7 linked regions of the Homo sapiens genome follow. The protein of the gene in region 3 purifies or fractionates together with the protein of the main gene of each other region. This does not show direct contact. Each region holds a gene or a part of one and is shown on either strand. Other genes may lie near its edges. The genes, in order: TMEM59L, CYB5D2, HFE, GAS6, SLC27A6, POMT1 and CNNM1.

The links.
Region 1: the proteins of HFE (region 3) and TMEM59L purify together in Homo sapiens (affinity purification with mass spectrometry; one large-scale study listed by BioGRID and IntAct). This does not show direct contact.
Region 2: the proteins of HFE (region 3) and CYB5D2 purify together in Homo sapiens (affinity purification with mass spectrometry; one large-scale study listed by BioGRID and IntAct). This does not show direct contact.
Region 4: the proteins of HFE (region 3) and GAS6 purify together in Homo sapiens (affinity purification with mass spectrometry; one large-scale study listed by BioGRID and IntAct). This does not show direct contact.
Region 5: the proteins of HFE (region 3) and SLC27A6 purify together in Homo sapiens (affinity purification with mass spectrometry; one large-scale study listed by BioGRID and IntAct). This does not show direct contact.
Region 6: the proteins of HFE (region 3) and POMT1 purify together in Homo sapiens (affinity purification with mass spectrometry; one large-scale study listed by BioGRID and IntAct). This does not show direct contact.
Region 7: the proteins of HFE (region 3) and CNNM1 purify together in Homo sapiens (affinity purification with mass spectrometry; one large-scale study listed by BioGRID and IntAct). This does not show direct contact.

What each region holds. Positions count from the first base shown.
Region 1 is NC_000019.10:18,615,347-18,619,165, reverse strand, and holds part of TMEM59L (transmembrane protein 59-like precursor), read right to left. Parts: intron 3,192-3,819; coding exon 3,039-3,191; intron 2,167-3,038; coding exon 2,064-2,166; intron 1,012-2,063; coding exon 894-1,011; intron 792-893; coding exon 674-791; intron 1-673. UniProt on the Homo sapiens protein: Modulates the O-glycosylation and complex N-glycosylation steps occurring during the Golgi maturation of APP. Inhibits APP transport to the cell surface and further shedding.
Region 2 is NC_000017.11:4,149,183-4,153,666, reverse strand, and holds part of CYB5D2 (neuferricin isoform 1 precursor), read right to left. Parts: intron 3,777-4,484; coding exon 3,636-3,776; intron 1-3,635. UniProt on the Homo sapiens protein: Heme-binding protein which promotes neuronal but not astrocyte differentiation.
Region 3 is NC_000006.12:26,085,525-26,090,725, forward strand, and holds the start of HFE (hereditary hemochromatosis protein isoform 1 precursor), read left to right. Parts: upstream 1-1,904; 5' UTR 1,905-1,916; coding exon 1,917-1,992; exon of another isoform or gene 1,993-2,638; intron 2,639-5,198; exon of another isoform or gene 5,199-5,201. UniProt on the Homo sapiens protein: Binds to transferrin receptor (TFR) and reduces its affinity for iron-loaded transferrin.
Region 4 is NC_000013.11:113,857,359-113,861,842, forward strand, and holds part of GAS6 (growth arrest-specific protein 6 precursor), read right to left. Parts: intron 1-4,484. UniProt on the Homo sapiens protein: Ligand for tyrosine-protein kinase receptors AXL, TYRO3 and MER whose signaling is implicated in cell growth and survival, cell adhesion and cell migration.
Region 5 is NC_000005.10:129,023,775-129,028,258, forward strand, and holds part of SLC27A6 (long-chain fatty acid transport protein 6), read left to right. Parts: intron 1-3,358; coding exon 3,359-3,557; intron 3,558-4,484. UniProt on the Homo sapiens protein: Mediates the import of long-chain fatty acids (LCFA) into the cell by facilitating their transport at the plasma membrane.
Region 6 is NC_000009.12:131,518,934-131,522,108, reverse strand, and holds part of POMT1 (protein O-mannosyl-transferase 1), read right to left. Parts: coding exon 3,152-3,175; intron 2,721-3,151; coding exon 2,623-2,720; intron 2,030-2,622; coding exon 1,916-2,029; intron 764-1,915; coding exon 637-763; intron 63-636; coding exon 1-62. UniProt on the Homo sapiens protein: Transfers mannosyl residues to the hydroxyl group of serine or threonine residues. Coexpression of both POMT1 and POMT2 is necessary for enzyme activity, expression of either POMT1 or POMT2 alone is insufficient.
Region 7 is NC_000010.11:99,327,059-99,332,259, reverse strand, and holds the start of CNNM1 (metal transporter CNNM1), read right to left. Parts: upstream 2,905-5,201; 5' UTR 2,873-2,904; coding exon 1,300-2,872; intron 1-1,299. UniProt on the Homo sapiens protein: Probable metal transporter.

The sequences.
Region 1 (3,819 bases), on a different chromosome or scaffold from region 3:
ACAAAAATTAGCGGGGCATGGTGGCACGTGACTGTGGTCCCAGCTACTCAGGAGGCTGAGGCAGGAGGATTGCTTGAGCCAGGGAGGCCGAGGCTGCAGTGAGCTGTGATCATGCCACTGCACTCCATCCTGGGTGAAAGAGTGAGATCCTGTCTCAAAAATATATATATAGGCCGGGCGCGGTGGGTCACGCCTGTAATCCCAGCACTTTGGGAGGCAGAGGCGGATGGATCACCTGAGGTCAGGAGTTCAAGACCAGCCTGGCCAACATGGTGAAACACCGTCTCTACTAAAAATACAAAAATTAGCTGGGTGTGGTGGCCCGCGCCCATAGTCCCAGCTACTTCGGAGGCTGAGGCAGGAGAATTGCTTGAACCCAGGAGGTGGAGGTTGCAGTGAGCCGAGATGGTGCCATTGCACTCCAGCCCAGGTGACAGAGCAAGACTCCATCTCAAAAAAAATATATATATATATATTATATATATATATATACACACACACACACACACACACACACACGTATATGTATATATATGTATATACATGAAAAAAGAAAAAAATGTCTGAGGTCCTGGCCTCCATGGGAGCAGGTGGCCAAATCCAGGACCAGCAAACAGCTCTCTCTGCCTTCACCCCCTCCCTCGGCCCAGCGCCATTCACAGATCCCACCCACCTGGAACTTGAGGTGCTGGCCAGGCGCGGTCACCAGGGTGGAGCAGCTCAGCCACAGCATCACCAGCACGGAGAGGAAGAGGCAGCAGGCCAGGATCCAGCGAGGCAGACCCGAGCGCCTGCCCCGCCCGGCAGGCACCACTCAGCTGCCCAGGCCGGGACCAGGGAGACCCGTACCTCCAGTCCCACCCCCCTCCCACCCCCAAGGTCCTGCCACCCACCGGGACATGCAACTGAGGAAGTCATTGTCCTGTGGCTCTTCAGACTCCACCTTGGCCTTGCTGCTGGTCTTGACTCGGATCTTGGCCTTCCTCACCTTGTCCAGGGGGCCTACAGGGTCTGAGAGATCAGCTGCCACTCAGCGACCACCAGGTCTTTGCTAAGAGGCCACAATAACCATGACCAGGAGGGAGGAGGTCAGGACCTGGGGCATAGAGTCCTGGAATGGAGATCAGAGCCCTGGGAGATGGACCACAGAATGCTGAGACAGGGACCATGGAACCCTGGGAGATGGATCCTAGGAGATGAACCATGCAACCCTGGGGGTGAACTGCAGAATCCTAGGAGATGAACCATGGAACCCTGAGAGATAGACCAAAGAACTCTAGGAGATGGACCCTAGGAGATGACCCTAGAAGATGAACCCATGGAACCCTGGGAGATGGATCCTAGGAGATGACCCTTAGGAGATGAACCCATGGAACCCTGGGAGATGGAACATGGAACCCTGGGAGATGGAACATGGAACCCTGGGAAATGGACCATGGAACCCTGGGAGATGGACTGCAGAACCCTGGGGGATGGGCCACAGAACCCTGGGAGATGAACTGCAGAATCCTAAGAGATGAACCATGGAACCCTGAGAGATGGACCAAAGAACCCTTGGAGATGGACCCTAGGAGATGACCCTAGGAGATGAACCCATGGAACTCTGAGAGATGAACCATGGAACCCTGGGAGATGGGCCACAGAACCCAGGGAGATGGGCCACAGAACCCTGGAAAGTGAACCATGGATCCCTGGGAGGTGGACCACAGAACGCTGGGAGGCGGAACACGGAACCCTGGGAGGTGGCCACGGAACCCGGGAGGTGGGCCACGGAACCCTGAGAGGTGGACCACGGATCCCTGGTAAATAGACCATGGAACCCGGGGAGATGGACCACGGAACCCTGGGAAGTAGACCACGGAACCCTGAGAAGTGGACCATGGAACCCTGGGAGGTGGACCATGGAACCCTGGGAAATAGACCATGGAGACCTGGGGGATGAGCCATGGAACCCAGGACTTGAGAGATGGAGATCCCGATCCTAGAAGGTCTGTTTGCCAGGCCGACTCCTTGTGGCAGTGGGGCCACCCATGGAAGGAACACTGGTCTAGGTTGCACCTTACCCACGTGCACCTCCAGGGCTTCAGGGTGGGAGCCTCGCCAGGTCACCTCCACGCGCTGCAGACGGCCCCCCTGGAAGCCGAGGCTCTCCACTATGGGCTGAGTCTGGGCCAGGAACAAGACAGCACAGAGAGGCTTGTGAGAACAGCACCCCTGGGCCCAGGCAGGCCCTCTGTGACTGCCATGTCCCACGCCCAGCTGATACCCAGTTCCCCTGGGTATCAGGGGTGGGCTTGATGTCAGGGATGTTGTTTTCTGCTTTCATGGGCTCCTCCATTTGCCTTAACCCCATCCTTTAGCTCCAGAAGTAGGAACATGATCCAGACCAAGCCAGTGAATTGCCTGAGAGATGGTCATATGATCCAGCCAGGGCCAATCAGAGTAAATCCCAGCTCAGTTAAAACCCCAGAGGGAGCCGGGGCAGTGGCTCATGCCTGTAATCCCAGCACTTTGGGAGGCCGAGGCAGGTGAAACACCTGAGGTCAGGAGTTCGAGACCAGCCTGGCCAACATGGCGAAACCCCGTCTCCACTAAAAATACAAAAATTAGGTGGGTGTGGTGGTGGCCGCCTGTAATCCCAGCTACTCAGGAGGCTGAAGCAGGAGAATCACTTGAACCTGGGAGGTGGAGGTTGCAGTGAGCTAAGATCATGCCATTGCACTCCATCTTGGGCAACAAGAATGGGAGTCCATCTCAAAACAACAACAACAACAACAAAAAAAAACCACAGCGTTTGTAACCTAGAGCCTCTGGCATCCACCTTACTGCCAAGAAGAAGTAAATGCCTGGGAATGAAGCCACCACAAAAGAAAGCAGAGTCAAGGCATGGAGTGAGACACTGAGCCCCTGGATCCAGCTGTGCCTGAAGCTCGCCCACTGTGGACTTTGCATCTCATGAGCTAAGAGCCAATGCATCCCATCTTCTTACCCTGCCCACCCATCTGCCACTCTGGCGTGGCCCCTGTCAGAGGTCTCACCTGAAACACCACCACTTTCCCATTGTCAGTCTGCAAGTAGTATGTCCAGGTGGAGGAGACAAATCCCTGGGCTGAGTTGACAAGGTCATTGCAGAGGGTGGAAAACAAGTCCAAGAGGGAGAGGGCCCCACTTGGAGCCTCCAGGACCTTTCTCTGGTGAAAAAAGGTCCAAGACACAAAGATGGCACCGAAATAGGGCATTAACCAATGAATGGGAGGGGGCAGGATGTGGTGGCTCACGCCTGTAATCCCAACACTTTGGAAGGCTGAGGCAGGCCGATCACTTGAGGCCAGAAGTTTGAGACCAGCCTGGACAACATCGTGAAACCCTGTCTCTACTAAAAATACAAAAATTAGCCAGGCATGATGGCGCACGCCTGGAATCTCAGCTACTCCAGAGGCTGAGGCAGGAGATTTGCTTGAACCCAGGAGGCAGAGGTTGCAGTGAGCCAAGATCACACCACTGAACTCTAGCCTGGGTGAAAGAGTGAGACTCCATCTCAAATAAATAAATGAATAAATAAACTAACAGGAGAGGAGCTAGGAGAATTCACTTGGATTGGATGTGGCTAAGTGATTTGGGCCAATAGGACTTCTTATAGTGAACACAGATCTCAGCGTGGCAGTTGGCTTCCTGTGTACCCTTAGGGAAGTGGATTGTGCTCTCTGAGCCCTAAAATGGGTATCGTTCTCTTCCTTCATGGAGTAGCCATGAAATTTCAACTAGAGGATGCCTGCCAGGTGCCTGGCACGGCACAGGCACTTAATGCGTAGTAGTCCC
Region 2 (4,484 bases), on a different chromosome or scaffold from region 3:
TCACCCTCCTCCAAACCACGGACTGTGGCAGTGGCCTCCTAACTGCTCTCTGGTCAGCTCATGCCCTCCTAGAGTTCTCTGTCCATAAAACAACTAGGGGATCTTTTAAAAACATGAATCCTACCATGGCTCTCCGATGCCTGATTAAAACCCTTCAATGGCTTCTTAAAGCAGACAAAAATGCAAATTTCTTATCAAGGCCTCTAAGGCCCTGTAACCATTTAACTGATTTGCTTCTTCAGCCTCTTACAAGCTACGTCCCCCCTCGTTCACGGGGGGCTCCAGCACACTGGCTTCCTTTCTGTGTCTTGGCTGTGCTTCCCCACTCCCCACCTTCGCACCGCTCTTCCCTGACCCAGCACACTCTCCTCAGGTCTCGGTGTGGCTGCCTCCCACTCACCTGCCGGTCTCAGCTTAACGGTCATTTTCTCCAAGAAGCCACTCCTGAGCATGTGCTCTAAAGGAGCCAAAGCTCCCAAACGTATTACATCACAGTTTGATGCATGGTCCTATGTGGAGTTGTTCAATCTGTTTACTTGTCTATGATGGCTCTCTCTACTAGTGAGGCGCAGTACTCAGAACAGCTTAGCGCCAGGCGCAGCGGCTCACACCTGTAATCCCAGCACTTTGGGAGGCTGAGGCGGGCAGATCACTTGAGGTCAGGGGTTCGAGACCAGCCAGGCCAACATGGTGAAACCCTGTCTCTACTAAAAATACAAAAATTTGCTGGGCGTGGTGGTGCATGCCTGTAATCCCAGCTACCCAGGAGGCTGAGGCAGGAGAACTGCTTGAACCTAGAAGTTGGAGGTTGCAGTGAGCTGCAGTCGTGCCACTGCACTCCAGCCTGGGTGACAAAGCAAGACTCCATCTGAAAAAATATATAAATAAATAAAACAGCTTAGCATAGAGCATTCATTTTAAATACTTATTAGATGAATAAAGAAAGGAATCAGGGCCCGAGTCACAGGCCTGCAGTCTATGAGTTGGCCTGGCACAGAATTTCCCACTACGGGGGTTGGGGTGTCTGTGTTATATGGTGACAAGCCTGTCTTTGGTGAGTTTCTGACATGAGACCCAAAGAGAGGACAGTAGTAGCAGAGGCAACAGAGGAAGAGTTCTAGAATCTGTGTCATGAGAATGGTGATCACCAGTGGCTGCATCTCCAAGCCAATCCTGTATCCACAGCATAACCAAGGCCATCTTGTTTTCCCTTGAGGCCTGGCCATGTTGGCTGCCAAGATGGCTTCCTGGCTGTCCTCACTTCAGTATGTACCCTTACAATAAACCTTCATCCACTGATGTATCCTGAGGGTTTCTGGTAACCTGAAAGAGCCTAACATGGCCCCTATCCTACAGAATGAGCTAACAGGGGCAGGAACTGGACTCAATTCATCCCTGGTCCCCCTGAGGATGGAACCCGTAACTTATGAGTAGTAGGTATTCAATAAGATCCTGACATCAACTAAAATCCTTCTGAGGCATTTCCCGCCACATGCCCCACCCCATCCTCAACACATTATACATCATTCAAACAAGACCAGCTCACTTGTCACACCAAACGCATCCGAACACTTCCAGTGTGCTCCCAAATCTTAGTATGAAGTATTTGGCCTGGCATTCTTTGCCCATTTACAGGACTCTGTTCTTTTTTTTTTTTTTTTGAGACAGGGTCTCACTCCGTTGCCCAGGCTGGAATGCAGTGATGTGATCTCGGCTTATCGCAACCTCTGCCTTCCAGGTTCAAGTGATTCTCATGCTTCAGCCTCCTGAGTAGCTGGGATTACAGGTGTGTCCCACCACACCCAGCTAATTTTTTGTATTTATAGTAGAGACATGGTTTTGCCATGTTGGTCAGGCTGGTCTTGAACTCCTGACCTCAACTGATCCGACCACCTCAGCCTCCCAAAGTGCTGGGATTACAGGCATGAGCCACCGGTCTGGACTCCATTCTTATTCTTTTTCTTTTTTTTCTTTTTTTTTGAGACAGAGTCTCACTCAGCCACCCAGGCTGGAGTGTAGTGGTGCGATCTTGGCTCACTGCAACCTCCGTCTTCCAGGTTTAAGCAATTCTCCCGTCTCAGCCTCCTGAGTAGCTGGGATTACAGGCACCTGCCATCATGCCCGGCTAATTTTTGTATTTTAATAGAGACAGGGTTTCACCATGTTGGCCAGGCTGGTCTTGAACTCCTGACCTCAGGTGGTGATCCGCCCACCTCGGCCTCCCAAAGTGTTAGGATTACAGGTGTGAGAGACCACTCCTGGCTCTTATTCTTTTCTATTGGGTTTTCTTTTCTTTATTAACCCAGTAATGTTTCAACCTTGGTTTGGCAACTTCATTGGGAAAGGGAAGAACCCAGCCCTCTGAAGCGCAGGTGAGTAGAGGTCAGTGCCTTCGATGGTAGACAGGGTTATGGTCTCAAGACTGATCTTGGGCATACGAGAGAAAATGAAGAAAGGCGTGCTGCAGAGGCCCACAATGGATGGACACAAACTTTAGATATTATGAAAAAGCCATGATTGATTGGATGTGGAGGGAGCTGAGGTGTTAATAAAAATGCCAAGGTTCTCAGAAAAGGTAACTCAAGCAGTGATGACAGAAGCAGAAATTCAGAGGCATTAAGGAAAGAATTCTTCCAAGTTAGACCTGTTTCGATGGTGAAGTGATACTGGTGTTCCTCAGGAAGTCAGTCATGTCCAAGTAGGACTCCAGTGAGACGTGGGGGCTGCAGATAGATAGAAGAAAGGGCTACGGCCATCCCAGTTGTCAGTACTTGTGAAGCAATCTAGTGTTTAGTGTCTTTCGTTGAGGCTGGAGTGCAGTAGCGCAATCTCAGGTCACTGCAACCTCCATCTCCCGGGCTGAAGCGATTCTCCTGCCTCAGCCTCCTGAGTAGCTGGGAGTACAGGTGCGTGCCACCACGCCCAGGTAATTTTTGTATTTTTTAGTAGAGACAGGGTTTCACCATGTTGGCCAGGCTGGTCTTGAACTCCTGACCTCAAGTGATCCAACCGCCTCAGCCTCCCAAAGTGCTGGTATTACAGTCGTGAGCCACTGCGCCGGGCCTAGTGTTTAGAGTCTTTAACACTGCTTTAGGACACAGTTTGGTGTTGTCTCATTTGAGAAGCAAGTCCCTTATGTAGCATCAGTAAGTAGCAAGTGCAGTAACCTACACAGTGGTTTGATTAGCATAACTACCACCTGGGAGACAGCTCACTCACGAAGTTTGTCTCCTCCTAGAGGACCAAATAAAAGGGGATTTGTCGAAACACAAATTCAGGCTTCAAGCCCTTCTGGCTGTGTGCTGAAGCCAGATGCATCGAACACAGTGAGACAGGGAAGCTGCCCTTCTGGAGCTGGTTGTTCAAGGATGGTGCAAGCAACCACTGGCTATGGCGAAACTGAGGCCAAAGCAAGCAGCTTAGTAATCCTCTCCCAAGACTAAGAGTGGGGGAAGCAGGTGCCCATCCATCTCCTTCTGGGCGGCTCATCCCTATTCTAACGACCAGAATTTAAAGTAAAACAAATCCATGGCTGTTTTTCAGATTTTAAGCTTGAACCCAATCCCTAAAAAATCTCAGCCCCCTAAAAACACTGCAGACAACCAAATGAAATGTATGACCTATGGACGACTTACCAACACACACATAATTCTTCTCATAGAATGAAAGCCAATTGTGAAGTGTCAGCATCTCAGCGGCTGACAGGTCGGATACGTCATCCACGAGGCCTGCTTCAGAACAGTCCCCGGTCACGAAAGCTCTGGATGCGTCTCGGCCTGGAACAGAGATGTTTCCATCAGACCCAGGTGTAAACCACTGACACCATCCCCACTCAAGAATCTGTTTTCTTTCTTTTTCTTTTTTTTTTGAGACGGAGTCGCACTCTGTTGCCCAGGCTGGAGTGCAGTGGCATGATTTCAGCTCACTGCAACCTCTGCCTTCCGCTTTCAAGCCATTCTCCTGCTTCAGCCTCCAGAGTAGCGGGGATTACAGGCGCCCGCCACCACGCCTGGCTAATTTTTGTATTTTTTTAGTAGAGATGGGGTTTCACCATGGTGGCCAGGCTTGTCCTGACCTCAGGTGATCCGCCCACCTTGGCCTCCCAAAGTGCTGGGATTATAGGTGTGAGCCACCACGCCTGGCCAGAAACTGCTTTCTGAGAAACGTCTCTTGACAAGCCCTACTCCTTATCCCCAGGGAAATGGGGTCCCCACCACCTCCTCTGTGAAAGATGCTCCTAGACCTTGGACACACATCTCTTTGGCATTGGTCATATTCTTTCTTTTACCTTCGGCAAACTTTAACACAGCTGACCACTTCCCTTGGCCTGATTTTCCTCCTACTTCTCCAGCTCCTCACTGTCTACCAGCCTTAGGGGTCAATTACTGTCCACACCCTCACACTTGACAATCTCATCCACACCTGTGGTTTCAAAGCCCACCTACAGGCAAAGATAGCCACATCTGTATCTTTAGCTCAGATGT
Region 3 (5,201 bases):
GCTCTTGTCTCCCATGCTGGAGTGTGATGGCACGATCTTAGCTCACTGCAACCTACGCCTCCCGGGTTCAAGCGATTCTCCTGCCTCAGCCTCTAATGTAGCTGGGATTACAGTTGCCTGCTATCACGCCCGGCTAATTTTTGTATTTTTAGTAAAGACGGGGTTTCACCATGTTGGCCAGGCTGGTCTCGAACCCCTGATCTCAGGTGATCTGCCTTCCTCGGCCGCCCAAAGTGCTGGGATTACAAGCGTGAGCCACTGAGCCGGGCCAATTTTTGCATTTTACATAGATGAATTATATGGTATGCTAATTATATCTTACCAAAAATTGAAAAAAAGGAATAGTACTATCAGCCCCAATGTGCCCATCATCAATATTCTACATGTTTCCAATGTTATTGTATCTGTTTGCCTACAGTCGAGGCCCTGATATCCTGTTTGATTTTCTTGAATTGCCAAAATTTGCATACATGCTTACAAAAATAATGCCTGTTGAATTTGCTAGATATGTAAAGGTTTGGAGCAAATCAGGTGTATTAAATTTATTAATATTGTTTGAAATGTCTAAGGCAATAATTCCCAAACTTCGTTGAGGGAGAAGGAAAGCTTTTAAAATCCCATTGCCCAGGTGGCATCCCATACTGTTACTGGGAATTATGCATTGGGATGGATCCTTTAACCGAGGAGATTATTATAGCCGGAGCTCTGAACCAGCAATCTCAGTTCTTGTGATAGTGAGCAAAGAACTACAAACTAACACCAAAATGCAAGCTTAAAGCAAAGTTTATTGAAGCACAATAATACACTCTGAGGGACAGCGGGCTTATTTCTGCGAAGTGAACTCAGCACTTCTTTACAGAGCTCAAGGTGCTTTTATGGGGTTTGTGGGGAGGAGTTGAGGTTTGGGCTGTATCTGAGTGACAGGATGATGTTATTTGATTGAAGTGTATAGCTATACAATCTAAAATTAAACTGTGCATGGTCTTACCTATAATTTGTTAAGAAAAGCCTCCCAGGGATGGGGGGGCAAAACTGTATGTAAATTCTATTATAATGATGGCATGATGAACTTGGGGTGAACTTGAAGACAGGCTTTTGTGTTGTTGGGCATGTGCCACCTTAGGGAATTTCCACCTGTACCCTCCTTTCTCTTTCTCCAGGATATTTTGGCCACAGACTTTATCATAAACTCCATCCCTTAGGGTGGCATTAGGGTAGTCTTGGGCCTGAATTTAGGTGGGCCAGTGGCTGTCTTAGTGACAGCCTTTCCGCTCTCTTCTGTCATCCCCTCCCAACTGCTAATGTCTAACTACCTAACAATTACCCATTAAATCAGTGTGTCTGGGGTTAGGAGCAGGCCTCAATATGTTTAATCATTCTCCAGATAATCCCAATACTGTAAAGTTTGTGAAACACTTGTCAGATAATTCAATTATGAAGGCTGTGGAAGGTGTTTCAGTAGGATCTAATTGGTTAATGTTATGACTTAATTAATTTGAATCAAAAAACAAAATGAAAAAGCTTTATATTTCTAAGTCAAATAAGACATAAGTTGGTCTAAGGTTGAGATAAAATTTTTAAATGTATGATTGAATTTTGAAAATCATAAATATTTAAATATCTAAAGTTCAGATCAGAACATTGCGAAGCTACTTTCCCCAATCAACAACACCCCTTCAGGATTTAAAAACCAAGGGGGACACTGGATCACCTAGTGTTTCACAAGCAGGTACCTTCTGCTGTAGGAGAGAGAGAACTAAAGTTCTGAAAGACCTGTTGCTTTTCACCAGGAAGTTTTACTGGGCATCTCCTGAGCCTAGGCAATAGCTGTAGGGTGACTTCTGGAGCCATCCCCGTTTCCCCGCCCCCCAAAAGAAGCGGAGATTTAACGGGGACGTGCGGCCAGAGCTGGGGAAATGGGCCCGCGAGCCAGGCCGGCGCTTCTCCTCCTGATGCTTTTGCAGACCGCGGTCCTGCAGGGGCGCTTGCTGCGTGAGTCCGAGGGCTGCGGGCGAACTAGGGGCGCGGCGGGGGTGGAAAAATCGAAACTAGCTTTTTCTTTGCGCTTGGGAGTTTGCTAACTTTGGAGGACCTGCTCAACCCTATCCGCAAGCCCCTCTCCCTACTTTCTGCGTCCAGACCCCGTGAGGGAGTGCCTACCACTGAACTGCAGATAGGGGTCCCTCGCCCCAGGACCTGCCCCCTCCCCCGGCTGTCCCGGCTCTGCGGAGTGACTTTTGGAACCGCCCACTCCCTTCCCCCAACTAGAATGCTTTTAAATAAATCTCGTAGTTCCTCACTTGAGCTGAGCTAAGCCTGGGGCTCCTTGAACCTGGAACTCGGGTTTATTTCCAATGTCAGCTGTGCAGTTTTTTCCCCAGTCATCTCCAAACAGGAAGTTCTTCCCTGAGTGCTTGCCGAGAAGGCTGAGCAAACCCACAGCAGGATCCGCACGGGGTTTCCACCTCAGAACGAATGCGTTGGGCGGTGGGGGCGCGAAAGAGTGGCGTTGGGGATCTGAATTCTTCACCATTCCACCCACTTTTGGTGAGACCTGGGGTGGAGGTCTCTAGGGTGGGAGGCTCCTGAGAGAGGCCTACCTCGGGCCTTTCCCCACTCTTGGCAATTGTTCTTTTGCCTGGAAAATTAAGTATATGTTAGTTTTGAACGTTTGAACTGAACAATTCTCTTTTCGGCTAGGCTTTATTGATTTGCAATGTGCTGTGTAATTAAGAGGCCTCTCTACAAAGTACTGATAATGAACATGTAAGCAATGCACTCACTTCTAAGTTACATTCATATCTGATCTTATTTGATTTTCACTAGGCATAGGGAGGTAGGAGCTAATAATACGTTTATTTTACTAGAAGTTAACTGGAATTCAGATTATATAACTCTTTTCAGGTTACAAAGAACATAAATAATCTGGTTTTCTGATGTTATTTCAAGTACTACAGCTGCTTCTAATCTTAGTTGACAGTGATTTTGCCCTGTAGTGTAGCACAGTGTTCTGTGGGTCACACGCCGGCCTCAGCACAGCACTTTGAGTTTTGGTACTACGTGTATCCACATTTTACACATGACAAGAATGAGGCATGGCACGGCCTGCTTCCTGGCAAATTTATTCAATGGTACACTGGGCTTTGGTGGCAGAGCTCATGTCTCCACTTCATAGCTATGATTCTTAAACATCACACTGCATTAGAGGTTGAATAATAAAATTTCATGTTGAGCAGAAATATTCATTGTTTACAAGTGTAAATGAGTCCCAGCCATGTGTTGCACTGTTCAAGCCCCAAGGGAGAGAGCAGGGAAACAAGTCTTTACCCTTTGATATTTTGCATTCTAGTGGGAGAGATGACAATAAGCAAATGAGCAGAAAGATATACAACATCAGGAAATCATGGGTGTTGTGAGAAGCAGAGAAGTCAGGGCAAGTCACTCTGGGGCTGACACTTGAGCAGAGACATGAAGGAAATAAGAATGATATTGACTGGGAGCAGTATTTCCCAGGCAAACTGAGTGGGCCTGGCAAGTTGGATTAAAAAGCGGGTTTTCTCAGCACTACTCATGTGTGTGTGTGTGGGGGGGGGGGGCGGCGTGGGGGTGGGAAGGGGGACTACCATCTGCATGTAGGATGTCTAGCAGTATCCTGTCCTCCCTACTCACTAGGTGCTAGGAGCACTCCCCCAGTCTTGACAACCAAAAATGTCTCTAAACTTTGCCACATGTCACCTAGTAGACAAACTCCTGGTTAAGAAGCTCGGGTTGAAAAAAATAAACAAGTAGTGCTGGGGAGTAGAGGCCAAGAAGTAGGTAATGGGCTCAGAAGAGGAGCCACAAACAAGGTTGTGCAGGCGCCTGTAGGCTGTGGTGTGAATTCTAGCCAAGGAGTAACAGTGATCTGTCACAGGCTTTTAAAAGATTGCTCTGGCTGCTATGTGGAAAGCAGAATGAAGGGAGCAACAGTAAAAGCAGGGAGCCCAGCCAGGAAGCTGTTACACAGTCCAGGCAAGAGGTAGTGGAGTGGGCTGGGTGGGAACAGAAAAGGGAGTGACAAACCATTGTCTCCTGAATATATTCTGAAGGAAGTTGCTGAAGGATTCTATGTTGTGTGAGAGAAAGAGAAGAATTGGCTGGGTGTAGTAGCTCATGCCAAGGAGGAGGCCAAGGAGAGCAGATTCCTGAGCTCAGGAGTTCAAGACCAGCCTGGGCAACACAGCAAAACCCCTTCTCTACAAAAAATACAAAAATTAGCTGGGTGTGGTGGCATGCACCTGTGATCCTAGCTACTCGGGAGGCTGAGGTGGAGGGTATTGCTTGAGCCCAGGAAGTTGAGGCTGCAGTGAGCCATGACTGTGCCACTGTACTTCAGCCTAGGTGACAGAGCAAGACCCTGTCTCCCCTGACCCCCTGAAAAAGAGAAGAGTTAAAGTTGACTTTGTTCTTTATTTTAATTTTATTGGCCTGAGCAGTGGGGTAATTGGCAATGCCATTTCTGAGATGGTGAAGGCAGAGGAAAGAGCAGTTTGGGGTAAATCAAGGATCTGCATTTGGACATGTTAAGTTTGAGATTCCAGTCAGGCTTCCAAGTGGTGAGGCCACATAGGCAGTTCAGTGTAAGAATTCAGGACCAAGGCTGGGCACGGTGGCTCACTTCTGTAATCCCAGCACTTTGGTGGCTGAGGCAGGTAGATCATTTGAGGTCAGGAGTTTGAGACAAGCTTGGCCAACATGGTGAAACCCCATGTCTACTAAAAATACAAAAATTAGCCTGGTGTGGTGGCGCACGCCTATAGTCCCAGGTTTTCAGGAGGCTTAGGTAGGAGAATCCCTTGAACCCAGGAGGTGCAGGTTGCAGTGAGCTGAGATTGTGCCACTGCACTCCAGCCTGGGTGATAGAGTGAGACTCTGTCTCAAAAAAAAAAAAAAAAAAAAAAAAAAAAACTGAAGGAATTATTCCTCAGGATTTGGGTCTAATTTGCCCTGAGCACCAACTCCTGAGTTCAACTACCATGGCTAGACACACCTTAACATTTTCTAGAATCCACCAGCTTTAGTGGAGTCTGTCTAATCATGAGTATTGGAATAGGATCTGGGGGCAGTGAGGGGGTGGCAGCCACGTGTGGCAGAGAAAAGCACACAAGGAAAGAGCACCCAGGACTGTCATATGGAAGAAAGACAGGACTGCAACTCACCCT
Region 4 (4,484 bases), on a different chromosome or scaffold from region 3:
TTTTAAAACTTTTAAAATGAACCTTTCACTTGGCCAGGGTCAAAATTTACAAGGCGTACACACCAGGTTTGCAGTGAAATCACTGGAATATAAAAACCATGGAAGAGTCCAGAGCATTTCCAACATCAAATACGAAACCCTTAAACAAGCAGCTTTGCATTGGAGAAACAGCTCTCAGTTTTAACCTTAGAAAACAGGGGAAAATGAAGCATGAGGAAACCTGGATGCCTGTCAATCGCTCTGGGGTAAAGCCATAACCTGGGAAGTGCTCAGCATGCCCCAGCTAGCAAGCTTAACGCCCCTTTACTCAGAATCTCAAGAAAGAAGCCATAAGCACTTGCTTCCTAAAAGAGTGTTTTGTTCCTAAATAACAAAGGGAGACGTTCAGCGTTTCTCAAAACGTCTTTAATTAGAGTTTTCCACAGATGTGAAGCTCTCCGGCTCGGGTGAGGGTGTCGTGTGCAGGGCCTGGCACTCGGCTGCCTCTGAGAAAGCCCCGGAGGAGCCTGGCACCAAGTGCCTGCAGACGCCCGGGTGAAAACAAGCATCTGCACAGGTGCGGGCACAGGAGAGGGCTGCGGAGCCAGCACGGAAGACGGCCCTCAGAGGAGGCCGGGCCGGGGTCCACCTGCAGGCCTCAGGATGGGCCCAGGAGGAAAGGCCTTGGCCACAGGGCTCCGGCCCCTCAGGCAGGGGGCTCTGGGAGTGGAGAGACCCTGGGGGTCTGAGGAAGCTGGGGCCACAGAGCCCCGTGACCTTGTGTCACTTTTTAGTGATCCTGCTGCAGCTGTCAGTGGTCTTCTGACCCCAAAGTTGTAGAAAGAGAAAAGTGTGTGAGAGGGTGCACATGTGTCTGTGTGTGTCTGCATGCATGTGGCTGGGCATCCATGTGTGCCTGTGTGTGTATATGTGTCTATTTATGTGACTGTGTGTACATGTGTGCATATTATGCATGTGTGTACATGTCTGTCAGTGTATGACTGTGTACGTATGTCTATGTGAATGTGTGCATGTGTGTGCATGTCTGTCAGTGTGTGTGACTGTGTGTTTACATATGTCTATGTGAATGTGTGCATGTGTACATGTCTGCTAGTATGTGCCTTTGTGTGTGCATGTCTGTGTGCCTATGTATGCATGTCTGTGTGTGACTATGTACATCTATGTGAATGTGTGCATGTCTGTGTACGTCTGCTAGTATGTGCCTTTGTGTGTGCATGTCTGTGTGTGACTGTGTACGTATGTGTACATGTCTGTGTGTGCCTATGTATGCATGTCTGTGTGTTTGTGACTGTATGTGTACATGTCTGTGTGTGCCTATGTATGCATGTCTGTGTGTGTGACTGTGTATGTACATCTATGTGAATGTGTGCATGTATGTGTACATGTCTGTTAGTATGTGTGTGCGTGTCATTATGCATGTGTGTACATGTCTGTGACTGTATGTATGTCTATGTGAATGTGTGCATGTATGTGTACATGTCTGTTAGTATGTGTGTCATTATGCATGTGTGTACATGACTATGTAAGTCTATGTGAATGTGTGCATGTATGTGTACATGTCTGTTAGTATGTGTGTGCGTGTCATGCATGTGTGTACATGTCTGTGTGACTGTATGTCTATATGAATGTGTGCATGTATGTATACATGTCTGTTAGTATGTGTGCCTTGTATGTGCATGTCTGGACAGTGTGTGACTGTGTGTACGTATGTCTATGTGAATGTGTGCATGTATGTGTGTGCATGTCTGTCAGTGTGTGGCTGTGTGCTTACATATGTCTATGTGAATGTGTGCATGTATGTGTACATGTCTGCTAGTATGTGCCTTTGTGTGTGCATGTCTGTGTGTGTGACTGTGTACGTATGTGTACATGTCTGTGTGTGCCTATGTATGCATGTCTGTGTGACTGTGTAGGTACATCTATGTGAATGTGTGCATGTATGTGTACATGTCTGTTAGTATGTGTGTGCATGTCATTATGCATGTGTACATGTCTGTGTGACTGTATGTCTATGTGAATGTGTGCATGTATGTATACATGTCTGTTAGTATGTGTGTGCCTTGTATGTGCATGTCTGGACAGTGTGTGACTGTGTGTACGTATGTCTATGTGAATGTGTGCATGTATGTGTACATGTCTGTTAGTATGTGTGTGTGCCTGTTTATGTGTGTGCATGTCTGTCAGTGTGTGTGTGTACGTATATCTATGTGAATGTGTGCATACGTATGTACATGTCTGTTAGTATGTGTGTGCCTGTGTGTGTGCATGTATATCTGTGTCTATGGGAACATATGTACATGTGTGCATGTGTCTAGGTAGGGGTGTGTGTGTCCCTGCACACCTGTATCCATGAGTCAGCACCTATCTGTGCTGGTGTCCATGTGTGAATGTGTGTGCATGTGTCTGTGTGTGGGAGTGTGCTGCAGCCTCTGTCAAGGCAGGGCAGGGGAGGTCTCAGCCTGGCCATCACCTTCCCCACCAGGCGCCCCCACATTGTACAGCCCTCCCCTCCAACAGGGACCTCCCTTTAGGCCATCCCAACATCTGGGCCTGTGTCCCAGCCAAGTGGCTGTTCCCAAGTGGGGACTCAGAGGGGTTTTCATTTCCATAAAGGGTACCCCTTCCCCAGCTGTTCCCAAAGAATCCACAAGGTCAGGGAAAAGGTGCTTGGAGGGCACATGCAGTTCAGGATGAGCCAGCAAGTTTGAAAACGGATGCACCAACATCCCATGCGGAGAATTCCTCACCACCAGCAGTGGGGAGAAGAGAGAGACTGGGACAGAGAGAGAAACACAGAGGGAGACAAAGAAAGAGATGGGGGAAGGGAAACCTGGCCTCGGAGCACAGGCCTGGCCACATGTCGTGCAGGTGCGGGTACAGGTGCAGGTTGCTAATCCAGGCCAACCCTCAGGGAAGGCCACCAGCCCTCGGTGAATATTGTGCTTTGTATCTCAGATAAAGCCAGGTGATGGGATCAGGAACCACAGCCTGGATGATTTTCCGGCAGGCAGGCCGGGGATCAAAGTGCACAAACAGGCTCCCAGGCAGGCACCGGAGGACCTGGGCAGTAGGGCTGGGCTGGGATAAGTCTCTAGTCTCGGATCATTTCTGGAATCAAGGGGTGATTATGGAGACCTCAGCAGGCCCTGGAACCTGATGGCCTTCGAGGATTTAGTAAAAAGTCACTGGGCCTGGGAAGCTTTAGCAGAGACACTGTGGGGAGTTACCCAGTCTTCTCTGAATTAGAAACTCGGGCAAGGAACCCAGCAGGGAGAGGCAAGGCCAGGGAGGGAGAACAACAATATAAAAAGGAAAACAAGATAAGGAGAAGGTCTGGGCGGTGGAGAGCAAGGAGGCATGTGGGGGTGGCCCAGCCTGGAGGAATGTCGGGGGAGGGGCACGGCTCCAGCAGAGAGGGCTGGGGAGGTGGGAGGAGTGTCCCTTCCAGCAGAACAGGGCTTGAAACCACAGGTGTGTGGGGAGGGCCAGAGCCTGGGAGGGGTGCTGGGCTTAGTATCCGCCTGCTGGAAGGTGGGGGTCTGCAGAGCAGGCACTTCCCTCACAACCAGGAAGCAGCCCCAGCTTGGGGCAGTGGGACACGCTTCAGGCAGGTGAGCAGGTGGCCAGGTGGGCACAGAGGTTAGCACACAAGTGAGCCTGGAGCCTGGGAGGGGTGCCGGGCTTAGTATCTGCCTGCTGGAAGGGCTGCACAGCGGGTGCTTCCGGGAAGAAGGCGCAACCAGGAAGATGCCCCAGCAAGGGGCAGTGGGACACACTTCGGGCAGGTTAGCAGTTTAGCAGGTGGACATGAAGGTGAGCACACTGGAGAGCTGGCTCCAGCTGTCCCTTCCCTCCCTCGTAGGAGCCTGCCCAGGGGAAACAGCCAGGGCTGGGTAGGTGCGTGTTAACTAACGGCGGCCAGGCACTTCCCACATCCTAAAATGGCAGGGGGCTGGGACCACCTTCCCTACAACCACCCGTGGAGGACCACACATCAGGATCCTGGGCCTGGGGAGGCCAGGGACCCAAGGATGCTCTGACAGTCACCATGGCCAGGTCCTGGTCACCTCTTGAGCTCAGGCCACAGCCCTTTTCCTCAATCAGCCGCACTGCACAAAATGTAAAGTGAGCAACATTTCAAAGACAAGGAGCCCCTGGCCTTTGACAGGGAGAAGTTCATGGATGATTTTCATGCATTAGCAGGAAGTTGTGCTTGGACAGTCCCCTCGGGCCTGGGGTCTCCCAAGAGTGTGGCAGAGGATGCAGTGGAGACTAGGGTCCTGGGAGGGGTGGGCCTGGTGTGCTGGAGCCGGCTGGGACTCAAGCCAGCCTCTGGACCCTGCCCCTGCCCCTGCCCCAACCAGGCTGTCCCCAGCATCCACCTGCCGGCAGGAACCGGAAACAGAAACAGAAACAGACAGCAAGCTAATGGCCAGATCCAAAAACCAGAGGGAAAGCGGGTTGTTATCATTTGGCATGGGGGC
Region 5 (4,484 bases), on a different chromosome or scaffold from region 3:
CTTGGTATCCTTGGGGGATTGGTTCCAGGACCCCGGGTAGACACCAAAATTCATGGATGTTTGCTCCTTATATAAAATGATACAGTATTTGCCTATGAGGTGTGCACATCCTCCTGTATACTTTAAACAGGTTGCTTATAATACATAATACAATGTAAATGCTACATAAATAGGGTCGTATGGTATTTTTTATTTATATTTTTTATTGTTTTATTATTATTTTATCTTTTTTACCAAATATTTTCTATCCAAGGTTGGTTGAATCCACAGATGTGAAACCATGGATATGGAGGGCCCACTGTGATTATTAGTGAATTTAAAAAGGAGAGGATGACTAGGTCCACTGTATAATTTAACTTTGGAATTTTAATGCAGGTGGAACAATTTTACTATTAAATGTTAAGAGCCCTAGAGGGATCACTCAGATGGTAAATTATTAAAATACAAAAGTGGTAACTATTTGGCTCATACTATTCTTAATCCACCACTTGTAGTATGAACAGTGGCAAATTTCTAATGTCCTATATTGCCAAACTATAATATAGAAATTAGTGAATTAATTTATCACTCTAGATATAATGTAAAGTCAGGCCAACTTGGATTTAAACGTGGTCTCTGACACTTAGAAATGGTGCAACTTTAGACAGATTACTCAACCTAAGTCTTATTTTCTTCATATGTAAAGTAGAAGTGACAATGTTTATTAAGTGAGGTTATTGTGGACGATTAAATGGGATGTATATATATTCCTGGGGGACCTGGTATGTGGCTTGTTACTTTCCTCTCCTCAGCTTCTCCCTCTCACTCCCCTCCCTTCTCTACCAAGGTAGACTTTCTTACAATTTTAGGTTAGAAATTTTCATGAAAGCAAGTACTTCAATTAACTTGCTGCTGCATATAATCAAATTAGAAAATAAAATATAGAGATGTGCACTTAGAATTGTTTAGAGATCCAGTATGGATAAATCAAGCCAAAATTAATTTGTATTGCCTTAAAATATGTTGAAACTGCATTTCAGAAGTGGCTTCCTAAATCTTTTCTTCAAATGTGAAGATAAGGTGACAAACCTGTTTTTATTTTCTGGTAGCTGAAAGACTAAAATAAAAAATGCAAACTTTGTCTATTAAAAAACAAATCTCCCAAATCTCTGAATTTCAAGCCTACTGGCATTTATCAAATATGTTTCTCCAATTCTAATCTGTAGACACTGCCCATGGGAAAATAATTTCTGAGCAGAGTGCAAAGAACTTAAGTGCACTTTTCTACTGTTCTATTTCTTACAATTATAGTAATATCTGATGTTAAAACTTGAATCCCAGAACTGTGCTTATGTAACCTCAGGGTTTCTTAAAAAGCTGGTTGACCCCAAATATCTGTTTTTCTATTTTGGAATTCTCATTATGAGCTACTCAATATTTTTTCCATTAAGGCATTGTGTCTTCACAATGTAAATTATGCCCAGACAGGAAAGATATGAATACACTGTGACCTATTTAAACATTTGCAACAATTAGTTTGTCAGAAAAGAAACTGTCACCTGTGTCCTAAAAAAGAAAAAAAAACGTAAGTTTTAAGGGAGATATAAGAGTCTTGAAAAATTCTGAAATACAGGGAATGTAGACTGACAGAATATATCACAGAGGTAAGGCTTTGGAGTCAGATGTACCTGGATATATATATATATATACTCCGACTCCTGCATTTGACAGCTGTATGACATTGGGCAAATTCCTTTTTTTACGCCTCAGTTTTTTCACCTTAAAATGAAGATATTATCTGGGCCTTTCTTATAGGTTTGTGATGAGAATTAAATGGATTACATATGTAAAACACTCAGAATCATGACTATTATGCAAAAAGTGCTCAATAGGTATAATTGTGATGATAATGATGGTGATGATGATGATATGATGGTGTTGGTGATATGATGATATGATGGTGATGATATGATGATGATGATGATGATGATGCTATCAGACTGCTGGGGCAGAGAAGATTTGCTTTGGCCAGTGACCTATGTGCCCTTGAAAGCCAGAATGCCCAGGAGTGGGAGAAATGGGAGTCGAGTAAAGACTGTTGGCTGGGTGCGGTGGCTCACGCCAGTAATCCCAACACTTTTGGAGGCTGAGGTGGGAGGATGGCTTAAGCCCAAGAGTTCTAGATCAGCTGGGCAACCTGGTGAGACCTCGTGTCTACAAAAAAATTACAAAATTAGCTGGGCCTAGTGGCATGCATCTGCAGCCCAGCTACTTGGGAAGTTGAGGTGGGAGGATCGGTTGAGTCTGGGAAGTCAAGGCTGTGGTGGACCATGATCATGCCACTTCACTCCAGCCTGGGTCACAGAGTGAGAGTTATTTTTTTTAAGAGCATTAAAAAGACAGAAATCACTCTGTATCATAGTTTGCTGGACTCCAACTTCATCTAGCCGCATGAACACTGCATCACTTTACAGCAGGCATAGCAAGTGGACAATAGCCTTGAAGACTTCCAGAGCAGTGATTGCTGCTGTCCTTTGTCCTCTCGTCTTCTCTTAGAAGTAGCTTTTACCTTGCAGATTGCTGAGAAAAACCTTAATTAATTTGAATAAGTTTGATTGGAAAATTATTTCAGATAATGTGTCTAAACATAACTGAAACTAATAAGTATCATAGAATAGGAAACCTTTTCAATGTCTCATCTCTTTCCCATCAAAAATTTCCAGAATAGCATCCCAGAGGAATAAACTGTTTTATTATAATAACATGTGTGTTGGATCAGAGATAGTATTATACAGAAACCTTGCCACACAAAGTCATAAAAACTTGAATTTGAGTTATAGGTCCATTTATTTCTCTGAGCGTGGCAACTATTTTACCCCTCTCGGTCCTAGTTCCTTGCTGGTGAAATAGGGATTATATCAAAGGATTTCTATGCAGAATAAGCAAAGTGGCATTTGCAAAGGGCTCATGGTAAATGCCCAATAAAAAATGCTATCATTATTTTATTAACACTATCACTACATTTGTTATTTATATAACAAATGTCAATATTATCTGTGGTAACATCTACATAATCCAAAACAAAAATAGCCGTTGGTCTATCCACCTGGGAAGTATAAGAAATCTAATGAGGCTTTTCTTTCCATTCAATTCCCTTTTTATTAGTTTTTCCAAAGTAATTTGTATTTGTGGTAATCTATGAAAGGATGTGCTGGATATAGGCACCAAGGGTAAATGATGTCAAATACAGAAATAGGTTCAGAGGAAGCTGAGATAAGCAGCATTGGTTGTGCTGGCCAGATATAATATAGATACATTCATGGTGTGTGTAACAATAGTTTTAATCAGATGGCTGCAAAAATGTCGTTCTTTCTTGCAGGAGAACCTGGACTTCTCATTTCTCGAGTGAATGCAAAAAATCCCTTCTTTGGCTATGCTGGGCCTTATAAGCACACAAAAGACAAATTGCTTTGTGATGTTTTTAAGAAGGGAGATGTTTACCTTAATACTGGAGACTTAATAGTCCAGGATCAGGACAATTTCCTTTATTTTTGGGACCGTACTGGAGACACTTTCAGGTATGAAATGTTATGGGATCCATAGCTTGTTCTGTAATTGTGAACCATGCTTCTATAGAAACATCAGAGACCACATATGCTTTAGCTTTCAGGGCAGACAGAGCCCTTTTATCTCCATGTCTCCTCATTAAAACATTTATTGGCCATCTGTTTCTAGACTGAACCACAAGTTAAATTTTGATGTAAAGTTTTATGATTATTTTAGTGAATCAGTTTAGAACAAATCAGTGAGCTCCTTTTTAAGGAAATAAAACTGGCAGACAGATGTAAAATATAAATGGTAGGGTTAAAACAGAAAGCCAGTTTGGTCAACTGTAGTCTAATTCTTGGCCTAATGATAAAAATTTTGAAGCAGCAAAAATCCCCTTTCTCACATTTCCTTTTTTAATTCCCTAAGATTATTTTAGGCCTATGAAATTATTTTGCTTTACTAGTCCAATGACTTGAATGAATAAGTAACTTCCTACATCCTTGCCTTCTTGTACCATGTTATAAGCTCACTTTATATAAAATTATTTCAATTAAAACAAAATATTCATTCAAAAGCATTAAAGGAGTCAAAGGGGGTTAACACCTAGAAATTTAAGTGGGTCAGAGTCAAAGGGGTTAACACCTAGAAACTGAAGTGGGTCAGTGTCCTAAAAGACAACTAGAGCTTTGCTTTCAATTCTTAACACCAGAGAAAAGGAATGTTTCACACTTCATTGTTATTTTACAAAATAATATTTTTGTAATGATAATCCTTGTAGTTATTTTATTTTTATGTATATTATAAAACATAGAAGGTAATTTATACAATGAGATATAAAGTAATTTTGACTAAAAGACCAATGCTGATTTTGTTGAAATACCAACAAAGTGCTTTCTTAGAAATGCCTTTCATCTTGAAAACTACAATTATGTTGGTCAGTAGGTGCTTGCACAGTG
Region 6 (3,175 bases), on a different chromosome or scaffold from region 3:
GTAGTTCACTGCCCAGCCACCGGCACACAGCGCCCCAGCCAGCACCCAGCGCAGCCAGGCATCTATAGGAAAGGGCTCGAGCTACACCGACTCTGCTGCTCCCACAGGCCGGGTCTTCTCTCTCTTTTGCTTTTTTAGAGAGAGGGTTCTTACTATGTTGCCCAGGCTGGTTTTGAACTCCTGGCCTCAGGTGACTCCCTCACTTTGGCCTCCCAAAGTGCTGGGATTACAGGTGTAAGCCACCGCGCCCGGCCTGGCTGCCTGTGTTACCCAGCCATTTCCAGCGCATACGGGCAACATGGGACCAAGAGGGCAATTCCTGCCCAATACGCTGCACTCGACTGGAGACACCTCTAACGCAACATGGGAACTTAACATTTTGTCTCTTGGGAGACAAACATAATTTAAGATTCCACAATACAGAAACAAAGAGGCCGCGTTAAGGGGTAGGTTCCTATGAAGTCGGTTTGTCACTTGAGGCGGTGAATGCTCAGCGCACACCTGTAATCCTAGCACTATGGGAGGCCGAGGCAGGAGGATCGCTTAAGCCCAGGAGTTCAAGAACACCCTGGACAACACAGCAAGACCCCATGTCTATATTAAAAAGAAAGAAAGCCATGTGGGAGAGGTACTAACCCTGAGGGAGGTCATGGACATTTCTTCGCCGTCGGAGCAGGTACCACAAGGACAGCAGGGCGTAGATGGCCAGAGCGAGGCTGCCCGAAACCCAGATCACTATGTTTCCAAGTAGGTGGATCTGAGCCTAAGGGAACATGGGAGATGCTGTTAGCCACCTGCCCTCTGCTCAGGGAGGGAAGAGAAGAGAACACAGGAAAGGAATTCAGATGCACGCACTACTTTAGCAGAGTGAAAAAACGCCAGGCACAGCCTAGCATCCACTAGGCCTTACTACTACTGTGGACAGGTCTGCTCCTACTCAGACCTTTCATTAAAAGCACTGATGCCAGCCGGGTGTGGTGGCACATGCCTGTAATCCCAGCACTTTGGGAAGCTGAGGTGGGCAGATCACCTGAAGTCAGGAGTTTGAGACCAGCCTGCCCAACGTGGCGAAACCCCGTCTCTATTAAAAAGTACAAAAATTAGCTGGGCATTGCGGTGGGCACCTGTAATACCAGCTACTTGGAGGCTGAGGCAGGAGAACTGCTTGAACCTGGGAGGTGGAGGTTGCAGTGAGCCAAGATCACGCCACTGTACTCCAGCCTGGATGACAGAGCAAGACTCCGTCTCTCTCTTTCTCTCTCACATACACACACACACACAGCACTGATGCTCTCAATTTTGTAATTGGAAACTGAAAATTGGGAGCAGATGACTCCACTTTGTAACAGCAGCGCTGTCCACGGAGGAGAATGCAAAGTGCGCTCAGAGCTCGGGGTGGGGCGGCCTCTGGGCCTGAGCCTCTGCCTTCAGTGCACATGCTGAGCCGACCTACCCGCCTCTGAGGGAGGAGGAAAAAGGTGGGCATTTCCAGCGTCTGCCCATTCAGTGAATATTTATGGGGCGCTGACTGTGCGCCCGGCCTACCAATGCTTTCACTCTGCCGGGTGGAGAGACGGCACGCACATCAGCAAAGCACCGGTAAGCTCCACCACCAGGTGCCACACGGAAAATTGAATGGGAATATCTTAAAACCACTTTCGCCAGGAAAAGGGGAACAATGTGTCTCCACAAAAGCAATCAAGCCGGGTTTCCTTCAACAGGCACACATGCCACACCCCTACTCCTGGCTCCAGGTTGCCAAAGCGTTTAGAGAAAACCAAGTCACAGGCCTTTGTCAGGAAAAGCTTGGGAGAAACCCAGCACTTTCTAGGGTGCAGCGGCTGCTCTTAATGCAAGGAATTCTCAAGAAACAGGATGAATCTATGACTGTCAGCTGTCAGCATCGCTCGCTTACGCTGGTCCTGGGGTGCAGCCAGTAGGCAATATTGGTGTCCAGGGTGACCCACTCCAGTGGGCTGGAGCTGTACTTGTGTTCCGAGTCATCACTTCTCAGCGCCAGCATCCTCCACTGGAACAAAGCAGAGGCCTCTGAGATTGAGGATGGGGGATGCCTCCCGCTGTGCGTGGATTTGGTCAAAGGAGTACACTGCTGCCCCTTGCACGTGGACTGGCCCAGCTCAAGTTCATTCGGATCATGCATCGGAGGCAGCATGATGAGAACCTGGATTCCAGCCCTGAATGTGGCCTTGGGAGGGTCGCCCCACCCTATGTGCTCCAGTTACCTCCTCTGTAGACGAAGTGATTGGGCTGAATGCTCTCTAAGGTCACGTTCAGATTTGTGACCGTGAGTTTCTGATTGTGACTTCTCTTGGGCTCTGTTGAGTGTGGCCCATTTCGCTGCCTGGGGGCCTTAAGACACCCTGGCGATGTTGCAGAACCTCCTGGGTCCCTATTATTCCTGACCACAGGGCCACAAGGTGTGGGCCAGGGGTGTCACACACAGTCCCTTACACTGGAGAGAGGAGACACTCATTCTGTTGTGAGCCTGTAGCTCCAGCGTCAAAGCCTGACTCTGGTTTGAGTCCTGTGCAGCCCCCAGGCCTCCCTGCTGAGGAGTCAATGCTCAGCGAGCTAGGCCAGCTTCCCCTGGCCGCTCCTCACCTGCAGCTCCGAGAATCTCGCCATGAAGCTGAGGTTCCTGCTGACGTCCACCTGCGCAGGTGAGTGCAGCTCCCGTTCCCGCTCCCTCTGCTCCTGGCCTGGCAGAACAGACAAGGGCATAACAGATAGAAGTAGCACAAGGTCAAGAGCTCAGAGCAGAAGCTGTCAGTGCAGCAAAAAGCTGGCTTCCTGCCTTTCTAACAAAGACCCCTTATCGAACCGCATCATTCCACTTAGCTTTCCCCACCACACCCAAGACTGCCCGGTCAAATGAGGTGATTTCGACCCTGAGAAAGCTCCACTTGCACGGGGATAAACTGGTTGCCTTCCAGCGACACCTCGGAAGAAGCGTCTTGAGTTATTACTGCAGCAGCTGAGTGCAGGGTGCAGGGAGGGAGATGACCTGCCACCGAGCATGGAGAATGTGCTCAGTTCCCTTCCCACCAAAATGAGAACTCTGGGGTGTTATCAAATATTGAGCAGCTGAAAGTACATTCCAGGAGCGGCGGAAGCCACGCCGCGGACTCACTCGCGCCGTATCGGTGCTCCTCCA
Region 7 (5,201 bases), on a different chromosome or scaffold from region 3:
TCATTCTGGGAAGTTCTACACTTATTCTAATTATGTCCCTGTTTTCAAATTATGATGTCTGGTGTTGCTTTCAGGGTTTGTGAGATAGTCTTTTGAATGCTCTCAGTGTTGACTCTTGAAAGTAGATTTGATTTTAAAAAACAATCAAGGGTTCTGGGCCAAATCTGGTGAACTAGGGGGGCGGTCAAACTGTGTAATGCCAAGAGGGGTGACTCTAATGTATCCAGGCTGATTTTTCTTGAGTGAATTTGTAGTCACCAGAAGGCACTTTCTGAAGACAAACTCAGACATGAAGTAAACATGTTATAAGCATGACATCAAGCTTGAGTTTGGGGAGGAGAGTTGGAAGATGGTGACTGCGCTGAAGGAAACCCCACTCATTTGGGTATGCAAGTTTTCTAGGATCTCCTCTACCCAGAATATTTCTTCAGGTCCAGATCTATCCTATTTCACAGGACCACAGTTCCCAGACTTACAAGGATCCTACTGCCTTAGTCAACTTTTAACCCCCAACCTGAGTACTTCCCTCCCCCCCGGGCAAAGACAGGGTCTTGCTCTTTTGTACAGTGGTGGGATTACAGCTCATTGCAGCTTTGAACTCCTGGGCTCGAGTAATCCTCCCGCCTCAGCTTCCCAAAGTGCTGGGATTAGAAGCATGAGCCGCCGCGCCCGGCCCTGGACCTGAGTACTTGATATGTGTGCAATCAATACCTGATGGGAAATTAAGTATGGGGAAGAACGTCTAAGGTGTCTGGGTTTAGTCTACATGATTCAAAAGGCAGAAGAGGTAGAAGGATTTGGAGACACAAATTCTGCTCTATATGAGGAAACATTGTCAGCCACTGGAGCTGTCCAGCAATGGAATTAGTTTGCTCTGTAAATAGTGAGCTTTCGGCCCTGGGAGGAGTTTAAAGCAAAGGCTGCTTGTATGGGAACCTGCAGAGGTGTCTCCTGTAATAGGTGGGGAGCTATGCAATGACCTTCAAGGGCTATCTCCCACCTACACAGTATCTGACATTTGGTAGGCCTTGGAAAAACCTGGTAGAATGGAACAAATAAGGAATATGGTGCATCTTGTGAATCAAGTAGAGAGGAAAGAGGCCTGGGGCTCAATCAGGAGCAAGAAGTGAGGCAGAAGTGAGATGAAAATAGCCAGGGAGCCAAGAGGTAGAGTCTTCCTTGGGTTTTTAGTACCATAGGAGAGAAATTGCTTTGGGTACCTAGAGCCTCACGTGGTTAGGAAAGGATAATACCTTTGAAGGGGATAGGAGTTGGGGGAGAAGATAGACTACTGCTCACCCTTCTTAAACTCCTCCAGAACCGTGTCCAGTCGGGTGTCATTGAAAACACAATGCAGGGGCCGGTTGTAGAAGCGGGTGACAGTGAGGAGCGGGGTGCAGTCGTCGGGGTCCACGAAGGCCAAGTCCTTGACAAATAAAATGTCCACAATGTTGTGCCGCTGGTCACCCTCGTACACTGGGATGCGAGTGTAGCCGCTGCGCAGGATCTCGGAGACAGTGGCGAAGTCGAGCACCGCGTCTGAGCGCAGCATGAAGCAGTCTCCCAGGGGGGTCAGCACCTCCTCCACAACTTTGGTGCGCAGCTCCAGGGCACCCTGTATGATGTTGAGCTCCTCCTTCACCAGGTCACTGTAGGGGTCTGCGGCCCGCAACGTCTCCAGCAACTTCTCCCGCGTGTAGAAGGTGCTTATCTCCTGGCGCAGCGCCCAGTCCAGCAGGCGGCCCAGCGGGTAGCACACGGGGAAGGCGGCTGCCATCAGAAGCCGGGTCAGGCACACGCTGTGCGAGGCGATGGCCAGCCCGTGCCGCGAACACACTGAGTAGGGGCAGATTTCGGCGCCCAGGAATACCGCGCCGGTGCACACGAGCGCCGGCAGCCACGGGAAGTGGATCCCCTCTTCGCTGTAGTCTTCCCCGGTGCCCCCGAAGCCCGGCGGCAGCGAGGTGTACAGCCAGCCAGCCAGGGCCGCGTTGGCTCCGGCTTGGCCCAGGAGTAGGGTGCAGAGCAGATGGGTCCCCCTGCCGCGAACGGCCTGCACGCGGCGCGCCTGCTCCTGCTCGGCGGCCGAGCCGCTGTTCCGCAGCACCCGTAACTCCACCGGGTCCAGCGACAGCAGGCTCAGGCGCAGGCCGCTGAACAGGGCCGACAAGGCTAGCAGCAGGAGCGCCCCGAGCGCCCGCAGCCACGCAGGGGGCAGCAGGTCCCCGCCTGGGCCGTACAACCGCGGGCGAACGCGCAGCAGGAAGCCGCCGGCGGCGCCGTGGTGGTGCCACGCGCGCCCATCCCAGGCGCAGAGTGAAAAGAGCTTCCCGCCACCGCCCGCGCCGCCCCGCTCCGCTTCGCCCTTGCGCAGCTCCCGCACTCGCACCTGGACCAGGGCCGAGCCTGCCACGCCCCCGGGACGCAAGGGCCCCAGGACTTCCACGTCCGATGCCCAGTCGCTCTGCTCCCTGCAGCGCTGCGGTCCCGGGGGGCGAGTGGGGACCGCGCTGGGGGCCACGCCGCCACCGCCCGGGGGCTCCTCGATGAACACGAGCCGCGGAGCCCAGTCGCCGGTGCCATTCTCCCCCGAGTTGAGGGTCGGTGAGGGCACCGGTGCGGCGGTGGCCGGCGGTCCTGGCTGGAAATAGACACGCAGGAGGAAGCTGGTGCCTTCGGCGGCGCGCAGGGTGCCCCCCTCCAGGGACACGCGGCCTCCAGCAGTGTCCTCGGGCCGCAGGCCCAGCAGCCAGGCGGCGGCGGCCGGGGGCCGAGGAGACAGGGAAAAGAAGAGCAGGAGCACAGCGCCTCGGCTGCAGCAGTCCCGGAGCCTGACACCCACCGCTGCTGCCGCCGCCGCGGCCGCCGCCATCCTGCACCCAGCGCAGCTGCACGTGATACTGCAGGAAGCCGAGCGAGAGCTGGAGGGAGGAGGAGCCGGAGCTGGGAACCCAGCCGCAGGCAGGTCACCACGTGTACGCCCACTGCGCGCGTGGGCTGGTGGCGGTGGGCATTCAGACTCCACCTGGGCAGGAGGTCCCCGCTGGAGGCTGGAGGTGGCCAGGCATCACCGCACTGTGCGTAGCGGGTACACACTTCGGTATATCTGAGATGCAGCCTGAAAAGTCTGGGTTTGCAGCATGGCCTCCTACTCCAAAAGTAAGGTGCTCCTCTGCGAACTCCTACCCGGCAGTAATTCCCTGCCGGCTCCACTGCTTCCCCATTGGCCCGGGAAATTTCCCAGCTTTTCGCTTCTCCTGCCACTTGCATTCCCCCTTCTGGTCAAAAGAATATTCTGGAGTCAAGTCTTGAATATGTGAAAACTTTTAGCCTCAACTCCAGCCGACCTTTCATTATTGTAAACATTTCTGGATTATTTAAGTTCAATTCTTAGTTAAGATCCGAATGTCCATCAATAAGAAACTGTTGAAATAAGTGAAACCACTGTGCAATGGAATACTATGCGGCAATAAAAAATAATGCGGTGGATCTGTTGTATATGTGATACGGAAAAAAATCTCCAAAGTAATTGTAGAAACAAAGTAAGGTGCAGAACAGCAAGTATAATATGCTACCATTTGTGTTAAAAGTATTTATGTATAAATTTGTACACACACACACACTTATATGAGATTTATTTATTTATTTATTTATTTTGAGATGGAGTCTTGCTCTGTCGCCCAGGGTGGAGTGCAGTGGCACAATTTTGGCTCACTGCAACCTCCACCTCCCGGGTTCAAGCGATTCTCCTACCTCAGCCTCCTGAGTAGCTGGGATTACAGGCGTGCGCCACCGCGCCCAGCTAATTTTTATATTTTTAGTAGAGATGGGGTCTCACCATGTTGGCCAAGCTGGTCTCGAATCCCTGACTTCAAATGATCCATCTGCCTCGGCCTCCCAGGGTGCTGGGATTACAGGCGTGAGCCACCGCGACCCGCCGTTTACATCTTTTAATTAATTTATTTATTTTGAGACGGAGTTTCGCTCTTGTCACCCAGGCTGACGTGCAATGGCGCGATCTCGGCTGACTGCAACCTCCGCTTTCCAGGTTCAAGCGATTCTCCTACCTCAGCCTCCTGAGTAGCTGGGATTACAGGCGCCCGCCATCACGCCCGGCTAATTTTTTTTTTTTTTTTTTTTGGTAGAGACGGGGTTTCACCACGTTGGCCAGGCTGGTCTCGAACTCCTGACCTCAGGTGATCCGCCTGCCTCGGCCTCGCAAAGTGCTGGGATTACAGGCATGAGCCACCGTGCCTGGCGGGTTACATCTTAATTATAGTACAATATCAAAAGCAGGAAGTTGATATTGGTGTAATGTGTGTATATAGTTCTCTATCATTTTATCACATGTATGGATGTATGTGACCATCACTGCACTCAAAATACAGATCTATTATCACCAAGATCTGGGAGGGAGACTTTCTTATTAAATTCCTTATATTGTTTGAATTTACTCGACTATATTATTTTTATGCATTTATTTTTAAACTTTATATAGTAAAATTCACTTTTTGGTGTACTGTTCTATGAATGTTGACAAATGCATATACATGTAAACATCACAATAAAAAGTAATTCCATCACCACCACCCCCCAAATTCTCTTACCGTCCTATTGTATGTAGTCAACCCCTCCCTTCGTCTTATCCTCTGGGAACTACTGATCTGTTCTCCCCTATAGTTTTCTTTTCCGGATTATCATATAAATGGAGAATACAGTCTGTAGCCTTTTGGGTTCTCCCTTCCTTTACTAAGTTAGCATAATGCATTTACGATTCATCTATGTTGTTGTGATTTTCAGTAGTTCATCCTTTTGTATGGCTGAGTAGCATTCCATTATATGGATGTGTCACTGTTTGTTTATCCATTCAATAAAGGATATTTAAGTTATTTCCAGTTTTTAGCAATTATTAATAAAGTGGCTATGAACATTTGTGTGATGGTTTTTGTGAGAACATAAATTTTTATTTCTCTTGGGTAAATTTATCATAAGTCTGTATTACATTTTAAAATATAGTAATCCTAACTACTTGGTAGGCTGAAGTGGGAGGATCTCTTGAGGCCAGGAGTTAGAGACCAGCCGGAACAATGTAGGGAGGCCCTGTCTCTAAAAAATTAAAAATTAAAAAAAATTAGCCAGGCATGGCGACACATGCCTGTAGTTTCATCTACTTGGGAGGCTGCAGCAAGAGGATCACTTGA